Linked DNA regions of Homo sapiens: region 2 is linked to region 1. The links come from fine-mapping of genetic effects on gene expression. Tissue or cell type: whole blood. Region 1 holds a variant in brackets; the other region holds the start of a gene. All regions are shown on one strand. Distances are from middle to middle.

Region 1 (2,684 bases):
AAGCATGACAGACAGTTAAATGTATAAGAAAAAAAGATCTTAATATTTGAGAAGAGAGTGTTAGCTATACTGGGAAGATATAAGGTGGTCATTAATTTCAGCTCTGAGTTTCCTAGCAACAAAAGTAAAAATAGAAGCATATTTCCCATTCTAAAACAAAAGGGAAGCACATAAGTCTATCTAGAAATAAATACCTTCCTGTTGCTAAATTCTAAGAAGAATTGCCATGCATTTCCTTACATAAGAGGCACCAAGTAACATAACAAAGAGTATGCTTTGGGCCAAACTTGCTGAAGATATAAAACTTTTCATATGACCATTTATCTTAAAGGCCCTTGAGAAAAGGCAAAGACATTAGATCTAGTATTTCAATGAAGACAAATCTTTTGATTCTAACATAAACCAGATACATTGTTTTTAGGTGATTCCAATTTTGATGTTTCCAAAACATGAGCTAAATCATGGCAGTCACTAGTGCTATTTACCAAATATTTCTAGTTTCTCCATTTCCAGAAACATGTCAAGATTTGTGCTTCTCTGCCCTTTTAGGTGAAACCATGTGGCATTCTGTGGCCAACAGAAGGCGATCATCAGTAATACGTGGAGCTACCAGGTGGAAGCTTCAAAGCCAGTGTACATTTTGCCATAACATTTATCAAAGATGCTTAACAAGTTTCTTAGCTATGACACCTAAAACATAAGCAACCAAATTAAAAATACATTGGACTTCATAAAAATTAAAAACTTCTGTGCATCAAAGGACACTATCAACAAAGTGAAAAGACAGCCTACAGAAAGAATTTTCAAATCATGTCTGATAAGGATCTACCATCCAGAACATATATATATATTTTTTTAAATCTCACAAGTTAACCCAATTAAAAAATAAACAAGAGGATCTGAATGGTGATTTATCCCAAGAAAATATATAAATGGCCAATAAGCACATGAAAAGTTGTTTAACATCATTAGTCATTAGGGAAATGCAAATCAAAACCACACTTACTAAGATGGCTATAATCAAAAAGGACAACAACAGCTATCGGAGAGGATGTAGGGAAATTAGAGACTTTATGCATTGCTGATGTAAAATGGTGCAGCCACGTAGAAAACAGTTTGGCAGTTCCTCAAAAGTAGAATTATCTTATGACTCAGCAATTTCACCCCAGGTATATACCCAAGAGAATTAAGAACATAAGTTTGCATAAAATGTACACATGAATTTTCATAGCAGCATTATTCACAATAGCCAAAAGGTGGAAACAACCCAAATGTCCATCAATTGATAAATGAGGATAAACAAAATGTGGTGCATCAATAAGATGAAATATTATTTAGCAATAAAAAGGGAATGAAGTCCTCATCCATGCTATAACATAGATGAGCCTTAGGCTGGGTGCAGTGGCTCATGCCTGTGATCCCAGCACTCTGGGAGGCCAAGGCAGGTGGATCACCTGAGCTCAGTTCGAGACCACCGTGGCCAACATGGTGAAACTTCGACTTTACTGAAAATA[C/T]GAAAATTAAGCTGGGCATGGTGGCGCATGCCTGTAATCCCAGCTACTGGGGAGGCTGAGGCAGAAGAATCGCTTGAACCTGGGAGGCAAATGTTGCTGTGAGCTGAGATCGCTCCACTGTACTCCAGCTTGGGTGACAGACCAAGACTCTGTCTCAAAAAACAAAACAACACATAGATGAGCCTTGAAACCATTATTCTAGGTGGAAGAAGCCAGACATAAGAGGCCATGTGTTGTATGGTTTCATTTATGTGAAATATCCAGAATAGGTAAATCCACAGAGACAGAAAGCAAATTAGTGGTTGCTAGGGGTTAGGGAATAGGGAAAATGTAACTGCTAGTAGCCACAGGGCTTCTTTTCAGGATGACAAAAATGTTCTCAAATTAGACAGTGGTGAGAGATTAGATTGTATAACCTATGTGAATATACTAAGCAACACCAAATTATACCCTTTATAGTGGCATATTGTGACTATATGTGGATTATATTTGAATGCAATATTTTTTAAAAGAATGTTCAAGTCAAAATGAAGCCTCAGTCAGCCTGGGTCACTGAGTGACCTCAATTAGCAAAATTCCCTCAACTGCTATTGAGTTAAGTAACTGAAATTTGTTTGTATATTGCTATATAAGTTATCCTATCCTTACTGATATCAGAAGAGATTCCTTTAAAAAGAAACAAAAACAAATTTATATAGACCCCAAAGTTAATTTAAATTATTTTCATTATATATTACTTAAATATATGCACATAGAAATTTCAGTGTAAGGTCTTTAGGCTTAGATATACAAGTAATAATAAAGTCAAAATAACCTTACAAATTAAACATATTCAAAACTGCAAAATCAATGAAATCAAGCTACAAACATTAAATTGGTATGGGAAATGATGCTATTTGCTGAAACCAAATCACACTTGCAAAAACATTGATAGCTATGGCACAGGTCATTCATGTTTGACGTGCATATAGTGTCAAACTAGGTGATGCCCCAATTTTCCATCACTTTTGTAGGTTCAAACACCTGCAACAATATTATTCACCCAGTCTTCACTTAGCACAAATGAGGCTCATTAACCTATGGCAAAGTAATTCTACTCTATACCAGCACAAAAAGAAGTACACACACAAACTATGGAAAAGGAAAAATAAGGCAGTAGTTGTTCATTAA
Region 2 (2,684 bases), 210 kb before region 1:
CCAGCGAACAGGTGTTTGGTTAATTCCCGCCCCCACCCCCATCTTTTTTTTTTTTTTTTTCAAAGGCATGTAAAAGTATCTCCTAAGGAGCGCCCCCGCCTTGCTGAGAAAGTCATGCAGGACACATGGAAAGTGGCTTTCCAACTTGTGCGGGGCGCGCCAGTCTGCGGGGGAGACGGGGTGCACCGTGAGTTTGGGAAAGGCCTAGACCATCCTGGAACTACGCTCCCTGCAAACCCACAGCAGCGCTGCGGTGACCCTGAACGCCACCCCAGCCCCAAACACACACGTGAAGCTCAGCAAAGCGTGCCACCTGCCGGGGTCCCAGCAAACACGCCCGGAGGGAAGAACCGGCGGAAAGCACTTTGTTTAAAACAGAAAAAAAAGTAAACTCTCCCGGGGCCCAGCCTAGCCCTCGGGTTCTCCTCCTTCCCGAGCTGAATGGAGGGAGGCGCCGCGCGGGGCGGGTCAGGGCGGGGAGCCGAGCGCGCTGGGCGCTGGGTGCGCCTCGGCCGGCCCGGGCGCGACCCACGGGCCAACTACTCCCCGGGGCCGGCGGGAACAGGGCGCGCCCTCGCCTCAACTCGCGCGCAGGCCGGCGCCCCAGTGGGGGTGGGAAGGGTCTGGGAACTCACAGCCGCTTGTCCTCGGGCTGCAGTTGCCAGTGCATGGCCAGCGAGAAGCCGAAGAGGCTCCCGGGGTCTCCATATTTCCGGATCACGTTGTCCTCCCGAGTGTCCAAGTTGAAGGCTGCGCCGAGCCGGGACAGGAGCCCCGCCGACAGGTAGAGCAAGCACAGCTGCCCGGCGGCGGCCATGGGCGGACGCACGGGGAGGGGAGCGGGGACCTGCAGCGGCCGCCCTGCGCTCCGGGCTGGGTCCGAGGCTGCCGCGCTGCTGCTACCGCAGCCACCTTCGCCTCCTCTCGCCGCTGCGCCCGGCCCCACCCCCGGGACGGGTCGCGCTCTCCGTCCGGCCGCTCCCCCTCGCGGGCAGCTCGCGACCGCTGAATGAGCCCGTTGTTCTCTGGAGACTCGCAGGCGTTTTATCAAGTGACGAGGACGCCGGCCCCGCCCCTCCCCACCCTCTCGCCCCTCCTTGCGCGCCCGCGGCCCGGCGCACCGCCCGCACCTTACCCGCCGGCTCTGGCGTCTCCAGCTGCCCGGTACCTGCCCGGAAGCCACGACGTGGGAGCCCCGGAGGCGAGCTCGCGGCGAAGCAGCCCCACTGCGCCGCCCTCTGTGGACAGAATTGTGGTTGCCGAGTAGCACAGAGCGAGGGAGACTTTACTACCCGTTATAAAGAGAAGTGCAGGTGATGCACCGGGCCTCATGGCCTGAGCAGCCTGTTCTTGCAGATGTGGGCCCACGTGCAGATGCATACGTCATTCATTCATTTCTACAGGTGTTTATGGAGCGCTTAAGGCGTGCCCAACACTTGGGGACTACAGCTGTGTAGACTGTTCTGGGTCCTCAAACACCTAACAACCCTCAAAAATGATCACAGCGCACACCTTGATAGTGCTGTATAATGTACACAACCCAGCCATTACCTCAATTCATCCTAACAGTCCTATGAGGTAGGTGTTTCTTTTTGCAGATCAGAAAACCGAAGTTCCGCCTTGTCCCCAGATCACCTAGGATTTTGCCCAGGTGACCAGGAGAGCTTGTGGAAGAAGTCACGCAAGTCAAGGATGGGTTGTTTAAAGTGGCGCCAGGAGCTCAGGCGACGATGCCGTTCTTTCCTAGCCCCGGACTTTCAGAACTAGTTGTGGGGAGAACTGCTGGGCCAAGAGACAGCTCCGAGTTCTGTGTAGGTGGCATGAAGGCTCCTGCCTCCAGGACATGAGGCGGGGCTCCAGTGAGGTGTTGGCCCTAGGGGCAACCTTATCCTGCAGGGGTTCTTAACCCGAGGAGAGGTAATTAATTCAAGAGTACTGTGAACTTGGATGAGAAAAAATTTACGTCTTAATTTTCACCAACCTCTGACATTTAGCACGTTTTGCCATTATGAACGTAGACAACAAACTACAGTAGCAGTAGGATAAGTATTTATGACTTAGTAATCACTAGAAACCATAGGTTTTTACATCACATCACAGTTGTTGCAAGTATCTCAAATAACAGTAGTTATTAGACAATCAGCCAGATATTATATGTCAATAATGAAGCATATATATTGCTCTAGCACAAATTTTTAAAAACATTTTGTTAGCTACATTTCAATATTATTGGCTTTTTTTGTAACCTCTTGTGGTTTCTTTTATGTATTTAAAACCCTTATTCTGAGAAGAACCCCATGGTTTTCAGCAGCCTGCCAAAGGGGTCCCATGGCATGAAAAGGTTGGGACGTGCTGGCCTGAAGCCTTCTGGAATGCCTTGGGGAGCCCTCTTTGGAATCTGACATCCCTGCATTGGAAATACAAGCAGGGTGCAGCCCCAGGAAAGAGCAGGAGCTGTGTGTGCATAGGGGTAGGGGTGGCCTCTTCTTCACCTCAAGGAGTATTCAAGAGAACAGCATGTGCCACTCAGAAAAGCTGCGTGAACATCATCAAGGGTCCCCACAGGTGGTAGCAGCTGTCAGAGTAAGTCCGTCAGTATATTAGGGGTGTGTACCACTTCCTTTCCAATCAGTAACTCCAGTCAATTATAGTCCAAAGTGGGGTGCAGTGGTTTAAATTCAGTA

Evidence for each region. PIP is the estimated chance that this variant, and not a neighbour inherited with it, causes the effect.
Region 2: it holds the start of ITGA6, and the variant in region 1 is fine-mapped to the expression of ITGA6 in whole blood (TOPMed, PIP 0.97).

What each region holds. Positions count from the first base shown.
Region 1 is chr2:172,217,854-172,220,537 of GRCh38, reverse strand. No RefSeq gene overlaps it. Among named protein-coding and RNA genes, the nearest start is that of DLX2-DT, 120 kb to the right of the region's middle. The variant C/T (reference allele first, on the strand shown) is at 1,515.
Region 2 is chr2:172,425,922-172,428,605 of GRCh38, reverse strand. It overlaps ITGA6 (integrin subunit alpha 6), which reads right to left and starts at 1,020. Exons shown (of 26, transcript NM_000210.4): 1 at 636-1,020. The coding sequence starts at 817. RefSeq lists an enhancer at 1-208 and a silencer at 993-1,072.